Linked DNA regions of Homo sapiens. The protein of the gene in region 2 interacts with the protein of the main gene of each other region in a pairwise test. Each region holds a gene or a part of one and is shown on either strand. Other genes may lie near its edges.

Region 1 (4,987 bases), on a different chromosome or scaffold from region 2:
TACAGTTTTATTTGTTCTTCATACACACACAAAAAGGTCAACATAGATAGATGTCCTTATTTTGCAGATGAGGAAACTGGGGTATAAAGAAGTAACTTACCCAAAGTCACAAAGCTAGTGAGCAATAGAGCTAGGACCTGAACGCAGAGCTACCATCCAAGCTTCACTCTAGCCAACTCTCTAGAGTGCCAGCAGCAGCCACTTCTAATGCCCTGCAGCCTAATTTCTTAGTGTAGGAGGGGCGTTGCACCACACTGCTGTCCAGTCCCAGGACAGAACAGCACTGGCTCCTTGCATTCTCCTTTGAAAGATGCTTACGCCTTACAGTCTATCAGTGTTCTCTATCTCTGCTTAAAGCTAAAAGGGGGCCAGCCCTGGAATGCCATACACAAGCTGCTGACTGGCCTTGTAGCCTTCTGAGGTAGATGCTCACAAGCCCTGCGCTTCATATCCATGCATTCTGAATCCCAAAACCCTTCTCCCCAAAAAAGCTCCCAAACCATCCCCAAACACTCAAAAGCCAAGACTCCTCTAGAATCCACCAGAGCCCAAGCAAAAGAAATTGAGCAACAATCTGCCTAGAATGAAGCCTGCCATGGACTAGGTGACCTGCTGGTCCTCCCTGGCCTCCTGCCAGCAAGCAGCCCTGCTTCTCTTTGCATTTTAATGCCGAGGGAGCAAGGGAGCCTCTGCCATTGCCAACTAGAGCCTCTGGATACAATGGGAAGCCTGAGTGGGAGGGGGGCCAGCTCTTGGCATAAGAGAGCCAGTCTTCCTTCTCACTGTTTGAAATCCAGTGTGTGTTGGGGGAGGGGTAAGCAGGCTTATCCCCAGAGAAAACATCCTTTCCCACCAACACTGCACTAATAGCCCCCAGACCTCGAGTCACCACATCAGGCGTAATGTAGAGGGAGAGGTCAACCAAGCCAGCCCCTGGCCCCCATCCCACCCAGACCCCTGTGCTTTAGCACTAAGCAAACTATAGTGTGCTAGCCAGCCCTTCCCTGCTGATGCTGATGCTATAGTAACAGCATCTTTTCTATGTGTTCATCTTCCAAAAGCCTGTGACCCCAATATACTCTACACTCCTCAAAAGATTCTTGGAAAGAGACTCATATGCCTTAGGGACAAGGCAGCAGAAATGACACAAGTCCTGAATGAGCATCTCCTGTCTGGGGTGATGAGGGAAGGTGGGAGAACTGCTAGTGTCACCCAGGATCCACAAGGCCCATGGGGACCTCTGGTCCAGAAACGGCAACTTGCTATCCAGAGTTCAGGAAGTAGCTTGCAGCTTCTGTTGCCCAGGCTGGAGCACAGTAGCACAATCTCAACTCACTGCAGCCTCGACGTCCTGGGCTCAAGCAATCCTCCCACATCAGCCTCCCAAGTAGCTGGGACAAATGACCAAGGCTTGTCTTTGCTTTAAACCTGGCCTTGTGAGATGTCCCATGCAACTACCTAGTCTTTGGTAGGTGCACACCATCATGCCTGGCTAATTTTTGTATTTTTTGTAGAGACAGGGTTTCACCATGTTGGCCAGGCTGGTCTTGAACTCCTGACCTCAGGTGATCCACCCGCCTCGGCCTCCCAAAGTGTTGGGGTTACAGGTGTAAGACACCGCGCCAGGCTGCAGCTTCTTATACATGCACCTTGCTGAATTAGAAGTAGGAGCTCAATAGGGGAGGGAGCCTAATGAATCAAGGCTGTATTTCCAGGGAGCTTGAGACTTGATGTTAGGCTTACACACACGCACACACACACACACACACACGCCTTTCCAGTGGGCTGGCTGGGCCTCTTCTCCTCACTGCCAAGTTGCAAAGTTGTGTGGTCACCTCCCCCCCCCACACACACCAGCTTCCCGCCAGCCTGTGCCCTCAGCCCTCGCCTCCCTGAGCCAGGACAAAGCCCCGGCAGTGACTGGGAGGGGAACAGGAGGAGGGACAGAGGGATGGGAAAGCCTGCACAAAGGAATTCCTCACCCCAAGCCCCCTGACCGCCAGCGAGTAAAGAAGCAGATTTGCTCTCCCTCCCGCTTCCTCCCTCCCATCTTCCCACCCGGGCTGTGCCCAGGCCACAGAGCAGCTGCAGGCCTTGGGAGAGGACCCACACAGCCTCCTGTAGGTGGCAACAGTGCCACCTGTTTGACTCATAGGGCTGAACCGAGGACTGAAAAAGGGAGGAGGCAGACCACTCGGAGAGGAGCTGGGAAGCAGTGCAGAGAGGAGAGCGGAGCGGAGCTGCCGCTGAGCAAAGGTGTGAGGGTTCGGGAAGGCTGGGGGGCTACAGGTGGGAGCTGTGGAGCAGAGACCAGCTCCATCCCACTGGGATTGGGCCGGGGGATTGAATGGCACCCCTGTCAGCAACCCTACTTGGGGTTTTCAGGCTGCTCAGACCCTGATCCCATCCTACAGGCAGCTCCTGAAGGGAGGGGACTCTGGAAGGCAGTGTCTGGGGTGCAGGGGTAGGACCCCAGGGGAGGCAAGAGCTTAGAGCAGGCTATCAAACCAGCTCCAAGATGGGCAGAGGCAAGGGCTTCCCTTTGGGTTGGCTTTTTACCGGGAAGGGTCTCGTAGAGGGGAGGGGTTTCCTTCCCCCAGCTCCAGCTCCTCACCCCTACCCTAACCCTCCTTTCCCAAGGCAGCATAAAGAGGGCAGTTCAGAAGCAGCCACACCTTCCTGCTTACCGGACCCACCCACTGTGCACCCCTCTAAGACTCCATAGCCTCGGGAGAGCTCTGAGGACAAGAGGTCCTGTCCCTCAGCCCGCACGCACACATGCTCACACACTTTGGGTGTATCCAGGGGCTCCTTTACATACTCAAAGTCACCTAAAATCATATTGTACCGACAGCCAGTTGTGCTGTCGCGTGCAAATGCTGACACAAATCACATACCGTCTCGCGTAGAATCAGTCACGTACCCAGCCAAGTCTGGGGATCAGCTCAGTCAGCCAAACCCAGAAGCATAAGGTACAGGGGTCCCCTGCCCCAAGACAACCACACCCCGCATACACACCTTTGCCCTGCGTTTGTTGTACTTTCACCAAAGCTAACTTAGAGGGTGGGGCTCCTAAAGGCGAGTCTGGGCTTCTGGTTGGGGTTGGGGGATGACTGGGCAGGAAAGGGCAGGACTTGAGGGGAGGCTCTGTATTTTGAAAATCCAAAGATTCCTTTAGAAGACTGGGAGTGACCCAGGCAACATGTTCACCTCAAGTCTTTCTCTTTTTGGCAGTGCCCTTTGTCCCCTGAGAGGTGGACACAGAGAATCTTTCAGGGATTTGTGATCTGAATAATCTCTATAACCATAGCAACTGGCCAACTAGCTGGGCCTTCCTTAGCCCCAGGTCAGAACTGTAACCTTTGCTTCAGGTTACTCCTGCTTCCTGGGCTGGAAAGCAATTCAACATGGGGTTGCCTCCAGCTTGGCCAAACCTGCTTTAACTTGCTGAACTGAGTTTGTCCCACCCTGGGCAGTTTCTCTTGAGTTCTTACCCCCAGGGCAAGCACTCCATCCCCAGAGGTGTGTGCTGTTAAATGGGGAGGAGCTGGAGAGAGTGGATATGAATCCTGCCCGAAAAGAGGCTGGACCTCTTGGGTGTCCCACTGACTCTCCAGGTAACAAGATTAAAGGGAAACGAAGGCTCTGGAGACTGTCTCCCATTGCCAGGCTTGCAGCTGGGGCTGCTCGCCTCATCCACTCTGGCACTCTGGGCCTGCCCCGTGACCTCCGTTGCTGAGCAGCGGCCCAGGCCTCTGCCTCTCCCCCGGGCTCCTCAGATACACTAGGAGGGAGACTGGGATCTGCCCTCTGCCAGGGTCCCTGATGGTCGAGTGTCCCTTCCCCCAGGCCTTCACCATGGCCGAGTCCCCCGGCTGCTGCTCCGTCTGGGCCCGCTGCCTCCACTGCCTGTATAGCTGCCACTGGAGGAAATGCCCCAGAGAGAGGATGCAAACCAGCAAGGTGGAGTAGGGATGGAGGGGGGAGGCTGGAAGTCAGAAGGCAGAGGCTCACTGGAGGGGATAAGGAGGCCAATTGTGCTCATAGACAGCTTGGGGGAAGGGGCTCTCTCTCCCAGGAAGAAAATCTCCCTCAAATATGGAAAGAGCTGCCCCCCGAGCAGAGCAGCCCAACACGGGGCAGGCAGCTCCCTTTAGCTGCCACCCGTTGGGGACTCTGAGTTTGAAGTAGGTATTGGTTGTGAGTTTCTCTCCTGCCCCTTTGCAGTGCGACTGTATCTGGTTTGGCCTGCTCTTCCTCACCTTCCTCCTTTCCCTGAGCTGGCTGTACATCGGGCTCGTCCTTCTCAATGACCTGCACAACTTCAATGAGTGTGTCATGGATTCCCCCTGCTTCCCCAGCATACCTGTCAACCTGCTCCCCACCCTGGGACCCGGGGGTGGCCCACTGTCAGTCATCCCCCAGCCCTGCCCAGCTGCTCAAACCCAGCTCTGCTGCTACCCAATCTCCTTAGAAAATCCCTCCACAAAATCTCCTCAATCCTTGGAGCCCCTGGCCACGAGGGGCTTTCTCCTCACTCCCTTCTAGTCTTCCTGGATCCACCCACCCCACCTCCCCTCAGGCCACTATTGACACCCCTTCCCCCACTTGGACACCTCCCTCTCCCCTCCCACAGATTCCTCTTCCGCCGCTGGGGACACTGGATGGACTGGTCCCTGGCATTCCTGCTGGTCATCTCTCTACTGGTCACATATGCATCCTTGCTATTGGTGGGTCCGGAGGCCGCTGGCCTAACCCCACCTCAGCCTTCCTTCCTGCTTAGTTTTAGCTCCCTATTCTCATCCTGGCCACTGAGGGAGGGGGCTAATTCTTGGGTAGGAGGGAAGTACCAGCCTGGGAAGCCCACCTCAGTAACCTTGCTCCCCTCTTGGCACCCCATAAGTCCCACTGCTCTCTTCCTCTAGGTCCTGGCCCTGCTCCTGCGGCTTTGTAGACAGCCCCTGCATCTGCACAGCCTCCACAAGGT
Region 2 (5,016 bases):
TAGTAGTGGGTTCCTTTTCCCTGGAAATGTTGAACCAATGCAGAACAATCACATAATATACAACAGTGCCTCTCTCAAACTTTAGTGCATATGATTCGCCCTGGGAACTTGTTAGTAGATCTGGAAGGGTCTGAGATTGTGAGTTGCTAACAAGTTCCTAAATGCTGCCCAGAGGACTTTACTTTGAAAAGCAAAATTAAAGAATATCCTTTCAGTCATGATTCCAGGACTGATCTCTGAAGTTCCTTTCAACTTTCAGAAAATGTGGTTGAATTCACTGATTCACTCACCTACACTTATTGAATGCCTCCTATGGGAGCAAGCACTATTAGGAATTAGAGATAACGAAGTAAACATGTCACACAGTCCCTTCCCTTACAGAAAATAAACAATTTATTCCAAGGATACTATGTATTTCTAAAGGAGAAGTGACAGGTATTATTGGAATATGTAAGAGGAACATAATCTTATTTGGAGAAGTGAGGAGAAGGGTGTCAGGAAGGGCCTTTCCAAGGAATTGAGCTAAGCAGAAACCTGAAGGATGACGTAGCTTTTGGGAAAGGGGTGATGGTGAGACAGATAAGATTCTGAACATTTTGCCAAGACAGTCTACCTAAATATCTTGTTCTCCTCATACCTGCCAAAGCAGACTGGTCCTTAAAGTCAGCTACTGATCTTTCTTATTTTTTCTCTCTATCCATTCATTCAGCTATCTAGTTCATCCATCTATTACTTATTTAACATTTTCTAAGACGGTAACCTAAAGCTATGAGAGTTGATGGGATTACACTGGGAGTACAGAGAGAAACTAGAGAAATCTAGGTAAGAGCCCCGAGGAACTCTAACAGCTAAATGTAAGACTGAGAAGGAACTTCAGTTAAAAGCAGCTAAGGAGGTCGGGTGTGATGACTCATGCTGGTAATCCCAGCACTTTGGGGGGCCAAGGTGAGAGAATTGCTTGAGGCCAGGAGTTTGAGACCAGTCTGGGAAACAGCAAGACCCTGTCTCTGCAACAACAACAACAACAAAATTAGCTGAGTATGGTAGTGCAGGCCTGTAGTCCCAGTTACCTGGGAGGCTGAGAAAGGAGGATCACATGGGCCTCCGAGGTTAAGCCTGCTGCAGTGAGCCAAGATCATGCCACTGTATTCCAGCACTCCAGCCTGGGGCCTGGGTGACAGAACAAGACCCTGTCTTACAAAAAAAAAAAAGCATTAGCTAAAGAGAGGCCAGAAAGATAGAAATAAAATTAAAGGAAGTTGTCAACAGTCCAAACGCAGCTGAGATGTTAAGCGTTTATTAATTACTCTTCAAGTCTGGTCCAAATTAAGGTGGTCTGGCAAGAAAGAATCAAATCAATGATAAAGCTAATTCTAGATGATCCCAGATAAGATATTAAAGAGTTCCACATGGTTTTCCTAAAAGTTTGCTAAAATTTTGTTATTTTCTGTTATATACCATAGAAGTTGGGGGTAAAAAAGCTATATTTCTAGAGACTTTGCTTTCAAAGGCATTCTAAATAGAGAATACATAAGAAAGAGATGTCTCAATTCCACCTTGCTTTGGTCTTCTATCCCTGAAGAATCTTCAAAGTCCTTTACTGATTATTATTTATGCTGAACATGAGCTAGTGGGGTGCTGGGGATATAGCAATGAACAAAGCAGGCAGAATCTCTGCCTCTTTGGCTTTTACATCGTCATATGTGTAATAATGGAAAGTGTCAGGAGCCATGACAGCATTACAAATGAGAGTCCTAATTTAGATTCAAGGTGGGGGATGAAATCAGGAAAGGATCCTTGGAAATGACATTTAAGAGCTTAGACCTGAAGGATGAGCTGGGATAGAACTGAGAGTTTTAGGAAGAGAAGACACAGCATCCATGTAACCCCTAAAATTGAAAGAGGCTTGACATTTTCCAGAAACTGAAAGGCTACATGGGGGGAGTGTGAACGTGAGGTACAGAGTGGTAAGAAACAAGCCTTGTATAGTACACAAGTTCTGGATCACAGAGAACCTTTTAGCTTTGTCCAGGATTTTGCTTATCAGCCTAAAAACAACAGGAAATCACTGATTTATGGAGAATGGATTAAGAGGAGGGAAGGTGGGATGGCAAGACAGAGGCGGAACCCGTAAGGAGAATATAACAGTAGCCTATAAGAGAAAATATAGTGGTTTGTAGTAGGGTGGAGAGAACTTGAGAAATATATACTCTGGGGGTAAAATTCACAGGACTTGGTGACAAATTAAACATAAATAATAAGGGGAAAGAAAGTATCAAGGATAATCCCCAGATTTCTGATATTAGTTTTTAGGTCAACATAGGTGTCATCTACTGACAGAACACTAAGGGAAAAATGTCTATAAGGAAGATCATGTGCATATGTACGCATAATACGAAGGGTCCAACCTTAGCCCTGAACCTGAGCATTCATCTACCTGATCTACTTTGATTGTACTGAGTAACATTTTATAAAGTAGAGACTAGTTCTTTCATTTGGAATACGCAGTGATTAACATGGTATCACAGTTGTGATAAGAATGAACATATAATACAATGAGGGCAACAAATTTCTTAAGTGACATATTAAATGTTTTACTAGCATATAAGGATAAATAAGTTTTTAAAACTCAAAACATATTTTTAACATTTATTGGTTAAAATTTACCTTAGAGTGGAAAATAATTAAGATAGAGACAAAAAAGGCATTCTGCTACAAATGCCATCTCTCAATAAGCAATAAAATAACAATATCTTCCTCTCACCATCTATCAATTTTACGAAGTCTAAAGGTTGGTGACACCATATACTTGAAGCTATGGGAGTAGACAGTATCACAAGGGCACACAGATTTAAACTCTGCTACATAATGAATATATTACCATGTGCAAGAAGAAGTAAATGCTTCTAAGCATGCAACATAGCTAATGATCTTCATAGCTGGAGCAAGAGAGCCCTCTCCTGTCCAAATATTATATTAACATTGGCTTGAATCTAATTCAATTACCTATCTAGATTAGTCTGATTCACTATAAATTACAGCCGATTGACTCTACTTTATTATGGGCTAAAAAAAGCAACTAGAAGTAACCTTCATAATAGCTAATATGTGCCAAGTACTATGCAAACTGCTTAATGAATTATCTCGTTTCAACTTCTGAACAATTCTAAAAGGAATCAAGACCATTTTACACATGAAGAAATTGAGTCTTAGCGAGCTTAAGGACTGCTAAAGAAAAAGCAGGCAGTTCTAAGTATAGGTGCACAGCACCATGCTAGGCTCTGAGAACACAGATATATGACAATCTTTCTCATTTCTAGAAACTCATAAACTAGTAAAAAAAGTCACACAGGCCATTATAAATAAAATCAGTGTTACAATTTTATATTGATTTATAGATTATAGACTGTTTAAAGGCACTGATCAAAGTCCCTTTCACATTCTTATTTGAGTTTCCACAATAAGCTTGACCAGTATGAAGGCCAGGTATGCACCTCACCCCTATACACATAAGAAAAATAAAGCAGTTCAGTGACTGATGCAAAGTAACAAGTCTGTAGGTGACAAAGCCAGGAATTAGAAAACTGTTGGCAATATTATACTATCTGCCAAAAATGAACTAAAATTAACCCTTAATTAATTTAGAGGAGTTCTTAAAACTCCTGTAAGTCACTTTAAGTTCATATCTAAATTCTCAGCCAGTTTCCTCTCAACTACCATAAAATGAAATTCTCAATGCATTCACCAATTAGATGAATGAAATATGGCAGATTATATTTCATGCTCACAAATGTGAGTAGATGCCTTATCTTAATTTCCTTTTACCTTTATCTTTTTTCTTGGAGGCCTCTTCTGCAGAAGATAATCTGGATTTTTTATGTGATGACTCTTCACAGTCTTTTTTGGTTTTATCTTTTCTTTTTTTTGACTTGATTTCTTTTCTCCTTTGTGTTAAACAATATAAAATTAAAGTTAACTTTTCCAACTGACCTTTTCAAAAATAACCATCATATGAACAAAAAACCAAAATCAGTTAAAATACTTATTTTTTAAATGTGATTTATATAATAAGGAACGTTAAGTGAGACTGTAAATATTTTATGCTTGTATATTAATTAAAATCATTCTATAAGATAATGAAGTCTTAACACTGACACAAATAATTACTTTCTATAAGTTCTGTATACGACCATAGTAAATACAAATTATAATTGTATTTGTTTCTTTCTTTCTATATTCTATCACTTAGCCATTTAAAACTAAATTACAAAAAAAAGCCTCATTTCCCTTCACATAATCCATATCCACCTACATGTTAAAAAAACACAAAGAAGAAGAAACTGCTGAACAGCTCTAAGCCACCAGTAAATAGAAATTTCTACTCTTAAGAATAAAGGAATATAGTAGAAGCATAATGGAATGAAAATGGAAAGGGCTTATTGTTAATTCATATATCAACATCAGGCCACTTATAATTTATACTCTTATTGTTGCAGCTTTATCTCTTCTAGAGCAGGTTTACAAGGTTGGCAAACAATTAATTAATTTTAATAGGTTAAGAAAAGAAATACTAAATGGGAAAAAGTGATAATGCTGAAATTGGGACTGGCAAGGAGAATAGAGACAAAGGAAAAGATTACTTTCAAAAAACTTGTTCAGTAGATTTTCCAAGTTAAAGTACATCTACTAAATGCTATAATAGTATTTAATGCATTAACCACTTTTGCATATTTTGTAAGAATCATTTCCATTTTGAAATGAAGCTCAAAAGTCAAGGTCAAAACAAATCCCTGCTTTCTTTCAGTATCACTGATGGGAAGGGGAAATAAAGGTTTAGGCTATTCCAGTAATCCAAAAAAGTTCTGGCCAAGTGTGGAGGCTTATGCCTATCATCCCAGCACCTTGGGCGGCTGAGGCAGGAGGACTGCTTGAGTCCAGGAGTTTGAGACCAGCCTGGGCAACATAGGGAAACACCATCTCTACAAAAACTTTAAAAAAAAATTATCCAGGTTTGGT
Region 3 (4,258 bases), on a different chromosome or scaffold from region 2:
CAAGCGATCCTCCTGCCTGGCCTCCCAAAGTGCTGAGATTACAGATATGTGCCACTGTGCCTGGCCAGTTTTTTGTTTTGTTTTGTTTTAAAGAATGCCTATCTTTGTGAACCCGGGAGGCGGAGCTTGCAGTGAGCCGAGATCGCGCCACTGCACTCCAGCCTGGGCGACAGAGCGAGACTTCATCTCAAAAAAAACAAAACAAAACAAAAAGAATGCCTATCTTTTAGAGAAAGGTACTGAATTGCTTATGGATGGAATGATATCTGAGATTGGGTCCAAAATAAATGATGGATGGCAGATACTGCCCATGAGTTGATAATTATTTAGACTGCATGACAGGTGCAGGAAGGATCATTATACTATTTTATGTAATTTTATATGCATTTGAAATTTTCTGGCCGGGTGCAGTGGCTCACTCCTGTAATCCCAGCACTTTGGGAGGCCAAGGTGGGAGGATCACTTGAGGTCAGGAGTTCGAAACCAGCCTGGCCAACATGGTGAAGCCCCATCTCTACTAAAAACACAAAAATTAGCCAGGCATGGTGGTGGGTGCCTATAATCCCAGCTACTCGGGAGGTTGGGACATGAGAATCGCTTGAACCTGGGAGGCGGAGGTTGTAGTTAGCTGACATCGAACCACTGCACTCTGTTGCCTGACAGAGTGAGACTCTGTCTCAAAAAAAAAAAAAAAAAAAAAAAAAGAAAAGAAATTTTCCATAATAAAACTTAAAAAACTGACGATCTGTGTTTCTTCTTCTTTTCCTTTTTCTTGGCTTTCTTTGCTCTCCTTTTGTTATCTTCATCTGCAAATTAAAGCACATTACAATTAAGAAAAAAATTTTTTAACTCTAAAACCGTAGTACTTTTGAGTAGGTAACTATCCTATTGCTGTCCCATTTATTGTTACAAAGAAATTACCTCATTGAAACATTTATTGCTATTTGTCACGAACTGTAGGGAGGTACTATGAACATAGAAATTAAAGTCACTAGGTTTTGATGATATAGGGTATTATTATTAATTTTATTGTGTGAGATAGTGTGGTGGCTAATTAGGAAAATGCCTCTTTTTACGGGATGCATACAGAAATATTTAGGGTGGAAGTGTGATGATATTTGTAATTAACTTTGACTATCTCAGTGAAAAACCCATATTTGAAGCAAATATGTAAAAATACCAACAACTGCCAAATCTAGGTGATTAAGTATATGGTATTAATTATACTATTCTCTTCGCTTTTCTGAATATTTAAATATTTTTGTGATAAAAAGGGAAAGAAAACTATGTGTGTGTTGGAGAGGGGAGAGAGAATCCTTTCCTGGAGCTCAGTCTAATGGAGGAGACAGATAGGTAAAGAGATCAATACAATCTGGAATGATAGAGGGAAGCTTGGGGAACCTGGACACACAGAGGAGTCTCAAAATCAGACTGATTTGAGGAGGGTGGCTGAGGAATGGTTGATCAGGAAAGGTGACTCTTAAAGTAGTTCTTTGATTACAAAAGTAATGCATGCCCATTGGTGCAATGAGTAAACCAAGCTGGATGGAGGGAGAGACTGGCATTGTAGGCAGAGGGCCTCTCTACCAAGTAACAAGAGAAAGAACATGGAATACTGAGGAGACAGAAAGTAGTTTTCAGATTACAGAGGATGTTGCAAGAGAGTGTAACAGGGTATATGTGATTAGAGAGAAATGAGTCAGGGTCTGAACTTTACCCTGAAGGCTATGGAGTGCTATTGAAGGATTTTAAGTAGGTATTTGGTGTATAGGGTATTATTACTAATTTTATTGTATGAGATAGTGTTGTAGTTAAGTATAAAAATGCCTCTTTTTAAGTGTTGCATACAGAAATATTTGAAAGTTCTGTCTTCGAGCACTGAGGAAGAGAAGTGACAGGGAGGGCCAGGAAACTTCGGCGATATCAGAGGAAGGTGAATCTTTGTGTAATGTGTTAACCTCAGAGGAGGCACCTTCTGGTCAATCATCAGCCAGGAGAGAGTACAAAAAGGAGACTCTTTGTGATGCACTACCCCAGATAGGGTGCCTTCCACAAATAGGCAGCCAGCATGAAGTAGGCACTTTATGGCATACCTTTTTGAAAACTGTAGAGGTGCTCATTGGGCATGAGAATTAAACAAAAGAGCCCTTCCACTGGGCCGATGCAGCCCTGTAAGGCTTACTTTGGTACAGCCCAACCCCCTGACTTGGTCTGGTGCCATGTGCCTTGTACACTTTGCACAACCAATCCCAATCCGGAGTCAGATTGCTTAGGTTTGAATCCAAACTGTGTGACCTTAGGGATAGTACTTATAACCTGCTCTGTCTCCATTTCCTCATCTATAAGATGTACCCTACAGTTATTGTATGGATTAAATGGCAATAATAAATATAAAGCACTTATTGGGGTACCTGGCACAAGGTTAGCAAGTGTTCAAAAACTCTTCAGTATTATTATTGTTTTCAGGAACCTTCTTCTAAAATAAGTTTTAAGAAGTAAAACTAGTTTTGAAGCAAGGCTTGCAGAATGCTGTTGGCGTTCTTACCACTGGAGTCTGTTTCAGAATCAGAGTCACTGTCGCTATCTTCAGAATACTTCTTATGTTTTCTTTTCGATGATTTTTTCTTTCTCCTTTTCTTGGACCTTTCTTTTGAACGGCTAGACTTCTTCTTTTTTTCTTCTAAGAAAGTACAAATTAAAAAATTATATTCTAAAAAACTATTTCTGAACATCAAAAGAAACAGACGATGGGCAATTTGAGTAAAAGCAAAGTCTAATGTTCAACTATTTACAAACTGATTTTTTTAAATCTCTCAATAAAATAGCTTGTATTTTAAAAATACCCTTTTTTTAAAAATACCTTCTGAAGTAGAAGCTGAAGTAGTGCTTTTCTTTGGCTCTTCATCCTCCACTGGTGTATGTTCATCAGAACTGAATTTAAATAAAATGGTTATAAGAATTAGGAAAGTGATGAGATATGGACCATGGAGTGTAAAGATATGAACTCCAAATTTTTCAGTAACAGCATCGATTGTCCAAGAACCATTAAAAGCAAGCATTGGAGATCCTAAGGCAGAACTTGGGAATCAAAAAAACCAAAACAACAACAAAGCAAGCACTGAACTACTTTCATAAACGTGCAGTTCAAGGGTCTACCATCTTTGTAATAATAAAATAACTTATCATTTGCATAACACTTTAGAGTTTACATAGTACTATTTAAACAAAGCAGCATGGAGGATTTATATTTTCACAAGAAACCACAGGGAAAAAGTAGAGAAACAGGAACCATAGGAAAGATTAAAGAAACTGGGTATAAGAAGGCTGAAGAAAGACTTTATAATTTTATTTTAAGCACGTAAAAGACAAATGGTAAAGCAGCAACTGTTCTGTCTCCTCAGAGCAAAAACCTAACAAACTACAGTCTAAAGAGATGTTGTTCTGTTGCAGAGAATTCTGAAAATGAGTATTATTCAAATTCTACAATAGTTTAGAAAAGGAGTTTCCACATCATATAATCTTTTCCTCTGAAGATCATACTTGGAGTAATTTAAATATTATCTAGAAAATTATTTTGGCTGGGTGCAGTGGCTCACGCCTGTAATCCCAGCACTTTGGGAGGCCGAGGTGGGCGGATCATGAGGTCAGGAGTTCAAGACCAGCCTGACCAACATGGTGAAACCCCATCTCTACTAAAAATACAAAAATTAGCCAGGCATGGTGGCATGCACCTGTAATCCCAGCTACTCGGGAGGCTGAGGCAGGAGAATCACTTGAACCTGGGAGGCGGAGGTTATGGTGAGCCAAGATCGCACCACTGCACTCCAGCTTGAGTGACAGAGTAAGACTCTGTCTCAAAAAAAAAAAAAAAAAAAAGAAGAAAGAAAACTATTTTTAGGGTTCCTTCCAACTCTAATTCAATACATTCAGGTTCTTCAAGTGTTTTCTTTTTTTTTTCTTTTAAATAGTCTTGTTATTTGCCCAGGCTGGTCTTGAACTCCCGGGCTCAAGGAATCCACCTGCCTTGGCCTCCCAAAGTGCTGTGATTACAGGCGTGAGCCACCGCACCTGGCCTCTTCAAGCATTTTCTAAAGGTATCTGTAAGAACAAGTTTCAGATAATAATGCTTTATTATCCAATCACAAATTACAGGTTTACCTGTCAAGCACATTGTCTCAACTCAACCTAAAGTTGGCACAGAAACAGAGAGGGAAGAAGAAACTTATGAGTAGCATCAAAGAGAAAAGAAATAAGCAAA
Region 4 (4,258 bases), on a different chromosome or scaffold from region 2:
GGGCTGAGATGGCTGATGCCCACACACATTCCACTGCCTGCCCAGCACTACTAGCAAGAGCAAGGGCATCTCTGCGTTGGCACGTGACAGGCTGCTCTCTGATCCCCAGCCGTGTAGTTTCTCACAGTAAACAGCAGGGTCGGCTCGGGTGATGGCGGGGATAAGAGGCCAAGGCTCCCGTCCACGCCCGACCCGTGGATCGCCCCCTTGGGCCGGCCATCGGCTTCCCAGCAGATGCACACTCTGCTTCCTCTGCCCTCAAAGCCAAATGTTGCACCCCTAAGGCGTCACTTTCTAAAGAAGAAACTCTAGGTTTTAGGAAAATCTTGGTTTTTATAGGATTTGAAAGACTGAAACTCCATCAGAGAGGCCAGGGATTAAGGCCCTCCTGCTGAGGGTCTGGGCTGCTCAGCGTTACCGTGTTCCCACCCAATCCTTCTTCAAAAGACAAATAGAATGAACGATTCCTAGCTCCTTTAGTTCTGGAAAAGGAGAACAGGCTTTGTAGCAGAACTCCCAGCAGAAAGGCCCTACTGGGAGGAAGCCTGGGTGGGAAGGACTGACTACTGGGGCAGCGCTTCCAGGTGGTCCCTGGGCTCAGAACCCCCAGGGCTGGAGTCAGTGAGCCACCGAGGCAAGACCGCAGGAGGCAGGAGCCTGTTTGTGAAGATCAGCAGGACGGACAGGAGAGCTGGTAATGGTTGCCACAGAGAGGGAGGGCCAACCCCACCAAGAGCTCTGACTCAGATGCCGGGAACTGCCCCCCGGTCGGGCTTTGGGAGCCACGTGAAAGGAGCTGGGGGGCTTTCTAAAAGGATTAAAAGGCTGGGGCTAGCACAGGACTTGGATGATGTATGCTGTTTTCCAGAAACATAGTGTCCCTGCTCCTCCCAAATCACAAAGAGCCCCAGACTCCAGGGCTGTGAGGCATGTTCCTGCCTGGGGACAGAGCAAAGTGCCAGCAGAGGCCACATGCTGACTCCCTGAGCAGCATGCATATGCCAGCGGAGAGGGGGAGGAGGGGTTGCAAAGACAGAGGACAAGCCCAGGGCACTAGGGGAAGCAGAGACCAAGACACGCTCCCAGCTGAGTGCCCTGAATTCCCTCTTGACAGCGCTGGCAACCGACCAAAGCCCATTAAAACACACCACAAATATGATTTCCAAAGAAGAACTGTTCCCTGGACGTCTCACCCGGGCATCCTAGGAAATGCCAAAGCCCTGAGAGGGAGCCAAAGGGACAACAGTGCTCACAGCAGACAGAAGCCCTGTGGGGCGGCAGGCCTGGCATGGCTGGAAGCCAGGCTGCTAGGAGCAAGGCTGAGAAACGTGCCCCCAGGATCCCCCAATACTCACCCACGAGTTCCTGGGGGTCTCGCTTTTCTGCTTCTGTATTATCCTGCAAAAGACAAACAAATACGAGGAGGTAAGACTGGGGCTCCTGAACCAGCTACTCTCTACTGAGACCACTCAGGATTTTTAAGGAAGGAGAAAAAGTAAAAGCACTGCCAGGAACACTAAGGGTAAGCTGATGCTTCAGGGGCCTCTGGCACCCCCGAGCCTCCGAACCCTCTTCTTCCCGCATCGCAGCAGCCGGATGCTCCCGAGCCCCACGCCGGTCTCTCCTCCATGCCTTTTCAGTGACCAAACCCACCATCGCTGAGGAGAACACAAGCCAGCAAGCCTGCTGCAGCCAACTGGGCAACGTATACCCTGCCTGTTGCTCTCCCCTGGGTCTGAGGAAGCTTGCCTGAATGGAGTGCAGAGCTCAAGGGCCCGGCCAGCCCAGACATCACCACCTCTACCGCTGGTACCAAGGAAGCAAGAGGTGACTGCTTTGTAACAGCAGACTCCCGAGATGAAAATGCAGACTAGCTGCTCCCAAGATACTCTTCTTATTTTTAGTTCAAAGAAGGGAGGCTTCATCATGAGGATAAAGGGGCAGCTCATGGAACCTCAGAGCAAGCATGCAGCAAACCTTTAATAAGTGGCAGAATGGGGATCCCAGAGAGGCCCCAGGCTCAAGGAAGCCTCTCTCTGGCTCTCAGCTCCCTTTACACTGGCTTTATACTCCCTCCAAAGAAAAGCTTCCTCCAATCCCTAATGCAAACAGTGTCCCATGACAGCTACATCCACATGTCCTGCAGAAACCTGAGAGCAAAGGCTTCTTAGACGTTTTCTGGATTTCACTGTTCTGTAGTAAATGTTTCATCTAAACCAAAATCAATGCTGAGAAAGCCACGGTCCAAGCCCTCCGTCACAAGTCTTCCCTTGCCTCCATTGTCTCAAGTGTAAAATGGCAAGAACACACCTGTTTCCCCCATTTCTGGGTTGCTGACACCCAGCCCCTCAAAGCCAGTTAGATCAACAATCTCAAGGGCCACACGTGCTCATCATCAAAACAGCAGAGGCAGAGTTCACAGAAAGTTGCTGGACGCCATGTCTTTTCCTGCTGATGAGTGAGGGAGGAGATGAGACAGGAAGACCCTGCAACAAGACCTTTTCGAGGACAGGTGCAGAGCTCCGCAGGCTCCACTTACACAGACATGGCACACCACGCCACGGCTCCAAAAGGAAGGTGCCAGGAAGGCCACCCAGTTCCCCACACTGAACCTAGACTCAGTCTTAGCCCCCTTTCCAGAAAGTCCCTCCTGATGCTGGGACAGGCCAAATTCCCCATTCCTCAGAACACTGCAGCTATTCATTCAACCTGGCAGGGCACCACGTCCAGGCCAGGCTGCTTAGCAACCCATCTCTTCGAGCCACTGCCCCCTGCCAATCAGGTGGGCAAAGAGGAGGCTGGGAGCAGGCAGGGAGGCGCGCCTGGAGGACTGCCACACCAACTTCAGGTTGCAGTCATAAATCAGCGGCTCTATAGAGACTGCCGCAGTCATAAATCAGCAGCCCTATAGAGACTGCCAGTCTCTCAGGGGACCAACAATCCCTTTGTAGCAGTGACTCTCAGGAAACCAGTGTTCAAGAGTGTTAGTAACAATACATGGGACTGTAAAATGCCCTCACATTTTCCCTCTAGAGAACAGCTTTCTGGGTGCTGATTGTAGGAAAACATCAGCTCCTCCCTCACCCGCCAGCTGGCTGATCATACAGGGACTGACCATTCGTTAACTCTCCCTCCAGCCCCCACTCACCCTTCCCCAAGGCTCCGCACCATACCACACCCACCCCTTCTCATGGACTCAACTGCAGAGGCCCAATCCCCACACAAGGAGTCTACCATGTCTACCCCAAAGCCACAGGAAGTTAGTCACCAAACATGCAATGGCTCTTCAAGGGGAAACACACTTGCCACTTCAGGGCCTCCTTAGGTAAAGTAAGAGGCCAGGAGCCTCCCCGTGGCTTCTTGTGGCTTTTGTGAACCTGGAGATGGAAAGGAGTGTGGGGTGTGTGTGCTGCCAGGCTCAGCTGAGGTTGTTGAGTCACGTCTCTGGAAGAAAAGAGATGATGGGGCAAAATCACAGGAAGTATTTTATCCCTTTATTTTATTTTTTTCCTTTAGGTTGGCTCTTCAGTTCCCCCTAAATTATTCCTTCTACGCCTAAGAAATAAATAAACTGGGTAGTTGGGTTCCAATTTGCCAACTAGTCTGGTCTTTGCTTTTCTACCCTCTTAGTACAAAAAAAGGGCATGGCATGCCCAGAGTACACCCTCAACTCGCAACAAGAGGACTCTCATTCAGTCCTGAACCTGAGGCCCACAAACAAGGCCCACCCAGCTTCCCAGCAGCAGAATCCAGCTCCATGAGCCTTCCCACCCTCAGTGCCTCTGAACAAAGTACTGACCAATGGACCACAGACCCAACTCCAAGTTCAAGAAGATTCTCCTGCCTTACGAGGACCCATTAAACCAAATGCATGAAGTAGCCTGGCCAGCTCAGAAGCCATATAAGCGTGCACGCTCAGGAGGAGGCCAGCGCTGCTGCACTAGGGTCTCCTAAGAAGACTGTGCTGTCTGTGTTGGTTCAGATTCCCATTGGTGTCATAGGCACCCTTGGGACCTACAAGGCTCTGGAGAATCAATCTGGGAATCTGCCTCCTGCTGGCTATACCTTATCATGTTTAGAATGTGATTCTTCTGCCCTCTGAGTCCAACAAGCTGGGCCATGAGCTTGCTGAGCCCTGGGTGCCTCTGTCACTGTGCCGAGCTTCTCCTAAAGAAGAAAGACAACAACCTAAGTTCTCTGGATCCTAAAGTGCTCGCTTGGTCAGGCGCAGTGGCTCACGCCTGTAATCCCAGCACTT

The links. Proteins that work in one complex are often made in the same cells at the same time.
Region 1: the proteins of FRA10AC1 (region 2) and GDPD2 interact in a two-hybrid assay, tested with the Homo sapiens proteins (one large-scale study listed by BioGRID and IntAct).
Region 3: the proteins of FRA10AC1 (region 2) and NKAP interact in a two-hybrid assay, tested with the Homo sapiens proteins (one large-scale study listed by BioGRID and IntAct).
Region 4: the proteins of FRA10AC1 (region 2) and SAP30BP interact in a two-hybrid assay, tested with the Homo sapiens proteins (one large-scale study listed by BioGRID and IntAct).

Annotation. Positions count from the first base shown.
Region 1 is NC_000023.11:70,421,127-70,426,113, forward strand, and holds the start of GDPD2 (glycerophosphoinositol inositolphosphodiesterase GDPD2), read left to right. Parts: upstream 1-2,187; 5' UTR 2,188-2,256; intron 2,257-3,849; 5' UTR 3,850-3,858; coding exon 3,859-3,963; intron 3,964-4,227; coding exon 4,228-4,331; intron 4,332-4,636; coding exon 4,637-4,730; intron 4,731-4,925; coding exon 4,926-4,985; intron 4,986-4,987. UniProt on the Homo sapiens protein: Has glycerophosphoinositol inositolphosphodiesterase activity and specifically hydrolyzes glycerophosphoinositol, with no activity for other substrates such as glycerophosphoinositol 4-phosphate, glycerophosphocholine, glycerophosphoethanolamine, and glycerophosphoserine.
Region 2 is NC_000010.11:93,677,655-93,682,670, forward strand, and holds part of FRA10AC1 (protein FRA10AC1), read right to left. Parts: intron 3,945-5,016; coding exon 3,826-3,944; intron 1-3,825. UniProt on the Homo sapiens protein: May be involved in pre-mRNA splicing.
Region 3 is NC_000023.11:119,933,752-119,938,009, forward strand, and holds part of NKAP (NF-kappa-B-activating protein), read right to left. Parts: intron 2,932-4,258; coding exon 2,861-2,931; intron 2,681-2,860; coding exon 2,546-2,680; intron 807-2,545; coding exon 743-806; intron 1-742. UniProt on the Homo sapiens protein: Acts as a transcriptional repressor. Plays a role as a transcriptional corepressor of the Notch-mediated signaling required for T-cell development. Also involved in the TNF and IL-1 induced NF-kappa-B activation.
Region 4 is NC_000017.11:75,690,580-75,694,837, reverse strand, and holds part of SAP30BP (SAP30-binding protein), read right to left. Parts: intron 4,168-4,258; coding exon of another isoform or gene 4,066-4,167; intron 3,445-4,065; coding exon of another isoform or gene 3,303-3,444; intron 1,399-3,302; coding exon 1,356-1,398; intron 1-1,355. UniProt on the Homo sapiens protein: Plays a role in transcriptional repression by promoting histone deacetylase activity, leading to deacetylation of histone H3.